Homo sapiens: one gene and its partner. The protein of the gene in region 2 interacts with the protein of the main gene of each other region in a biochemical or structural test. Each region holds a gene or a part of one and is shown on either strand. Other genes may lie near its edges.

The links.
Region 1: the proteins of CTF1 (region 2) and SORT1 interact in a biophysical measurement, tested with the Homo sapiens proteins (one study listed by IntAct).

Annotation. Positions count from the first base shown.
Region 1 is NC_000001.11:109,310,884-109,314,702, forward strand, and holds part of SORT1 (sortilin isoform 1 preproprotein), read right to left. Parts: coding exon 3,789-3,819; intron 3,502-3,788; coding exon 3,378-3,501; intron 3,175-3,377; coding exon 3,160-3,174; 3' UTR 1-3,159.
Region 2 is NC_000016.10:30,901,662-30,904,197, reverse strand, and holds the end of CTF1 (cardiotrophin-1), read right to left. Parts: intron 2,121-2,536; coding exon 1,659-2,120; 3' UTR 651-1,658; downstream 1-650. UniProt on the Homo sapiens protein: Induces cardiac myocyte hypertrophy in vitro. Binds to and activates the ILST/gp130 receptor.

The DNA of each region.
Region 1 (3,819 bases), on a different chromosome or scaffold from region 2:
CTGGAGGTGGCCAGCACATTACCAGCCTGTCAAGGATGAAAGACCACCTTGGGCATGGAGAGGCCCAGAGGCAAGCATCAGAGCAAGAGAGAGGAGGTGGGAAGTCCATTCAGAGGCAGACGTAGATTCTACGTTCCAGTTACGGCTGATCTATGGACTCTCCTGAGCCCGCCCCCAGAACTGCCGCAACTCTCCAAAGGCTTTTATTCTTTGAAATAGAGTTGCCATTGAATTAAAAGCCTACAGGAGAGACGGGCCTGGTCTGTGGTCTCACTAAAGCCCAATGCCCAATTAGGTCCAGAGAAGAAAGAAGAGTGAGTTCCCTACCTGGATTTAAGAACTCGGACCACTTTGGACTGGTTTGTCCAATCTCTCTTATAATGCTAAATTCCATTGCTGAAGCCTCCAGAAATGATCTCTTCTGCTACATCAAGCCTGGGAGTTTACACAATGATACACTATGTTTTACCTTCAAAGATAATGCTCCTAACATGAGTAGGACAAATTAGAAATCTATTTTTTTAGAAGCTGTAACAGATTTGGGCTTTCTTACTCTCTGGCTGAGGGCACACATTTGTGAGTGAGCAGGTTGATAAAGAAAGCTAACTAGCCAATAATGAGAATGAGCCAGGCTGGCTGTCAGTCTTCAAACCAACAGAGCTAGCCAGCCCGGGGTGGAAACCAGGATGGGGAGGGAGACCCATCAGTGGAGAGTCCACTCCTGCACTCTTGAGCAGTGACCCTCAATGAGGGGAGGGGCAGTTTCTGCAAACGTATTTAAAATTCCCATTACTTTTGTTTTCAGCCATGAAAGACAGGAAAATACAATTTTCTGTTCACCAAGGTGGCAAAAAGGTGCTAAATACTGCTAGGAAACAAATGCCACTGATCCCTGTCATAAAGAACAGCAAGTCATCTACAAGAAGGCAGCCTTGCTCAAAGTGGTTAGCACTCGCATGTGTAAAGATTTCCAAGAGTTCTGAAGACAGCCAGCCAGCACTGCTTATCACACACACGGGGACCCTGAACAACTGACTCCATCCCAAGAACATTGTGAGGTTCAAATGACATTATGTGAGTGAAGGTGCTCTGAAAATTTGCCAAGTTCCACAGAAATCCCAGATATCATTAAAAGCGAAGAGCCCTATCGTATATGGTTAGAGAAGAATATTGAGTTTCCTACGTCTTAAAATGAGTAAGAGGATTACCATGTATTGGTGCATCTGCCCACAGTGAGTACATGCTGGGAGAAAGGTGAGTGGTATAAACAGTTCTTTTCTGAGTACCAAATTCACTTTGGGCAGGAGGGAGGGTGGGGCAGAGGCTGACGTTTTCATTTGTGAGCTGGTGTATCTTCGGAATTATTTTTAATTTTAAAACCATGCAAAATGAATAAGCAAAAAGACTAGTGCACTCCAGCCCTAACCATATTATCTTCACAAAAACTGCCTCAACTTTATTTTCTAACTGAAGCTCCCTGACTCATTTCATTCTACTGCAGTTTTAACATCTCTAAAAGTCTCCATCCACTCTCTCCCCCACTTTCCACGCAGCTGTTAATCCATTCTGGGGAGGAGAGAACTTAGCCATCTGCTCACATTCTGACTAAAGTTAATTTGGCACTTCAAATAAAAAAAAAAAAAAACACACAAAACTGACTTTCTAGCCACAAAATAAACTAGTAGCAAATGGTATCTACCAAAGAATGTCCCAGTCATAATCATTGGGAGAAACTGTGACCCGCACAGTAGCTACATTAAGACCAAAAACTTTCCATACTATATTTCTATATAGCAAATATTCAAGCTGTATTAAAACTAATTATTGCAGCTTTCCATTACTATATGGCCACCCCAAAATCCACCCAACTACATTCTATAATTTATTTAATTTAGAGAGGTATCAAATGGAAAACTTCTTTTAATCCAAAATAAGAACTTAATGTATCACACAAAGCATCATCTAGACTGGAAGTGTGTTTTCAATTGGTTCCTCCAAAATTTTCGTGTCAACAAATTACTTGGCAAAGTCAGAAAAAAGGGGTGAGAAGGAAAGCCTGGTAATAAAATTCTAATTTTTTAAGTCTATAAATCTGAAAAAATCTCTAGTCCTGGTTCCATGTACAACAGCAACCTAAGAAGCAGCAGATAGGCAGCCATTGTCATGATTTAGCAACGAGCCACACGACAGTTAAGAAGGGAACATGGAAGACTGTGAGGTTCCGTCTTCGGGGGTTCACACTGTGTACCCGACAATCAACTCTAGGGAAGAGATCATTCAGCCTGGGCAGACTTCCAGCTAAGTTTGTACCCTGTCCTTGCGTAAGTCTACTGGCACACACACAAAGCACAGCTTGAAAAATCTCAGAAGAAGCAAGAGTTCTCTTTTAATAGGTGCTATATCTAGTCAATTCTCTGCTGCTCCCTTCTTCCTGCCCCAAGTTAAAAATATTGCCCTGTAAGTTTTCCTGATGTACTGTGTGGGAAGCACATGGTTAAGTTAGTTGCCAAAGGGCAATTAACAAGGGTATTGCCTAATTAAACAAGGGAAAAGAAAAATCACTGTGGTCTGTGGTCTCTGAAAAAAAAAAAAAGAGTAAGTGGGATCTGTGTGAGGAGCTGGTGTGCAGTGTTCTTGGAGTAGGACTGTCCCCAGATGGAGAAAAGCCGGCCAGGCTGTGCCAGCCTCTGCAGCCTGTTTTCATCTCTACAGCTGTTTCGTCTCGCCAGCAGAGCCCAGGGATGGTACCAAGTACACTGTGAGAGCTGATACTGGAGTTGGCAGATGCCCTGGGGCAGGCGCCATGCAGAACACACAGAAGTGGGGTTAGTGAAAAGGTCCCTTCGAATTCCATTTCGTTTCCCTTAAAAAACAAAAACAAAAAAGCCCATACTTTGCAAAGAGACAGGACGAGAAATAAGAAGTTAAAGAATTTAAAATGTCTCCCTTTTTCTCAGAGCCAATTGTAAAAAAGTGCTCAGGGTTCCCCACCCCCACCCTGCATTTCTTTAGTGTAGGTCCTTTTGGCTTTGATGGAAGCAGCAGAAACAGAGCTGGGTCCCTCGCAATGGGAAATTTATTTCCTGAAGTTGGAGCCACAGGGAGTGTAAGAGGTACTGTGGTTCCACCATCCATGCTGGGTCCAGCTCCTCTGAAGAGCTATTCCAAGAGGTCCTGAAAAAGACATGCACCATATTACCGACAGACCACAACACTCCTATTTCAAAAGCAATCACCTAGTTTCTGGGCTTGCCAAATCTTATGGTCATTAAGTCGCCTTGGCCCTGGCATATCTTGATCATGAATAGAAGACAGACTTTATTTTCTTGTATTTTTTGGGGGGGGGGGTACTACCATTCAAGAAGAAATAGCCTCACCTCATCTGAGTCATCATGATAACCACTTTTATTAGTGTGGGAGGCTGTGTCCAAAGCATCCACACCATCCACACCATTGGCCTCTGCATGCTGCTGCAGCACAGAGTATCGATGCACCAGGAACCTGTGAACAGAAACCTCCTTAACACTCGGTGGTACACAGCAGGGGTGCACTTCTTACAGGACTGTGGACTTTCTCAGTTTTATACACTCAGGAACGCATCACAGACACAGAAAGCACAGTCCATGGTTGACATATGAAAAATGTACGACATGAGAAGATTTGGGCCTGATTTTTCAGGAACAGTACTGCAAGTACCTAGTTTTTGCCAAGAGTAGACTCAGCCATATGCCCTAGATCAGCCTTCTGGCTTGAACTCAGTACCTTGGATTGACTTCTGTGTTCCTTACCTTCCCCCACAGACATATTTCTTCACAATGA
Region 2 (2,536 bases):
CTCAATTTCCTTATTTCAGGGCCTTCCGGCCCAGGTCCTCTGGCCTGCGTTCTAGGTCTGGGTCAACCTCCATGGATGCCATTCCATGGGTTACCCATCCAGTGGTACTGGGTGTCCACTTCCTGGTTGGAAAGATGCACCTCTCCAAAGAGGCTTCACCTGTCACTCTACAGGGAGAGGACAGTTGGTCCCCTTCCTAGGCTCTCCCTGAGACCTTCCCTTTTTTGTAATTTTGGGACGGTTGGGGCTGCCTTCCTGTCTCTGTCTGCCTCATTCGCTGTATGAAGAGCCCGCCTTTCTAAGCGGATAGGCTTCCTTCTTCCTGCTGAAGTTCATTGGCTCCCCTCCTTGGCCTGTCTCTCTGGGGCTACTGTTCCACTTCCTGTCCTCAGGGGCTCCACTTCCTGATCCATGGAAGCCCAATTCTTGAAGAACTAAGGACTGCATCACATCTGTTTCCTGTTAGGACACATCCACTTCCTGTTCTGGGCTGGCAGAGGGCACCACTGGCCAGGGGCTGTCAGCCTCCTATTTATACTGCTGGGCTTCTTGGGCATGTCTGGGGGACTAGGCTGCATCCCAAGGGTCCTTTTCTCCCTAAAGCTGTCTCCCCATTTTCAACAACTATATATACAAGTAACTTTAGTTTCTTTTTTATTTTTAAACATTTTATTTACAAAAAATTAATTTATTTTCAGAAATAAAACTCTTTTAAGGTGTTGCTTGTTTTGTCTCCACAGATCTGCTGGGAGGCAGTGGAGGTGTGCAGGGACAGGGCAGAGGGGCTGAAGGAAAGGAGGACATCAAAGGGACAGGGCTGAGGCCCAAAGGGATGGGGTGTGGCAGACTGGGGATGTAGGTGGAGTGAGCCTGAGGAAGGTGGCTGAGATGCAGAGTAGCCTTCCCCCCATAGGACCAGCAGGCACGCCCCTGGCCAGGGAAGCACAGAGAGACAGCCAGATGGGGACAAGGAGAGAAGGTGTCACCTCCTTGAGATAAGGCTGAGATGTACACATGTGCTCACACAGGGCCACGAGAAGGCAGGAAGTGGGGATGGAAAAAACAGAGACACCCCAAGAGCTGGGTAAAGGGGGAGGCCAAAGGGAACTGAGGCAGGCCCAAGGAAGGAGGGAGAGCAAGAAAATGGTAGACTCAGACGGAGTTACCATGCAGACGAGGAGGGTCCAAGAGTTAAGAGAACGGGGCAGGCAAAGCAAAGAGAGGCTGGGAAAGTGGCTCACGCCTGCAATCCCAGCACTTAGGGAGGCTGAAGCGGGAGGATCGCTTGAGCCCCGGAGTTCAAGACCAGCCTGGGCAACATGGCGAAACCTCGTCTCTACAAAAAATTAAATAAAAAATTAGCCGGCTGTGGTGGCGCGTGCCTGTAGTCCCAGCTGCTGGGGAAGCTGAGGCGGAAGGATGGCTTGAGCCCAGGAGGTTGAGGCTGCAGTGCTGGGATCGCGCCACTGCACCCCAGCCTGGGCGACAGAGACCCTGCCCGTCCCCTCCCCTCTCCCCCACAAAAAGCAAAGAAGGCCGAGGCAATGGAGACAGCTAAGAGCAGACAGACAGACACCGACAGCGGCAGAGAAAGACAAAGAAGCGGAAGGAGAGACGGAACCCAGCGGGAGGAGGCGGGGCGAGCTGCCCCGCGGCGCTCAGGCCGAGCCCCCGGGCAGCAGCTGGCCCAGGTCGCCCTCGGTGCGGCTCAGCCACTCGCGGTAGAGGCCGCAAACGCGGAGCCCCAGCACCTTGGCGGGGAAGACCCCGGTGGCGGAGGCGGCTGAGGCGGTGGCGGCGGGGGGCTCGGCCCGGGGCCCGCGGTTGGCGGCGCCCAGCGCGGCCAGCAAGGCCTCCACGGCGGCGCCCAGGGCCCGGGCCTGGCGCGCCGCGTCCTCCAGGCGGCGCAGCAGGCGCGGCGCGCGCGGGTTCAGCTCGGCCTGGCGGCGACACACTGCGTCCAGCAGCGGGGGCAGCGCGGCCAGCGCCGCCGCGTCCAGCCGCAGCCGCTCGTGCACTGGCAGCCCCGCGTGGCTCGGAGCCGGGGCGCTCAGGCCGGCCACCGGCAGCCGCGGCGGCGAGAAGCTGGGCAGCCCGAAGGGGTCTCCCTGGAGCTGCACCTGCGGAGACACGGCCGGCGGGTCAGCGGGGCCCCGGAGCACGGGCAGGGGGCTGTTAACTGGGCTCTCCAACCCGCTCTCTGGGGGTGTCAGTTTCCTCATCTTGCAGATGATAATCCCTCCTAACAGAGCTGCTCTGTTTAAGGCAAAACAAAGTGGCATGCGCTTGACACCAATGCCTGTTTCTTCCTCCCTAAACTGGACCCAGACTGGGCCAGTTTAGGTCAGCACTTTGGGAGGCCAAGGTGAGATAATCACTTGAGCCCAGGGGTTCGAGACCAGCCTAGGCAACACAGCAAGACCACAGCTCTAAAAAAAAAAAAAAAAAAAAAAATAGCGAGTGTGGTGGCGCATGTCTGTAGTTCCAGCTGTTCCGGAGGCTGAGGCTGAGGTGGGAGGATTGCTTGAGCCCAGGA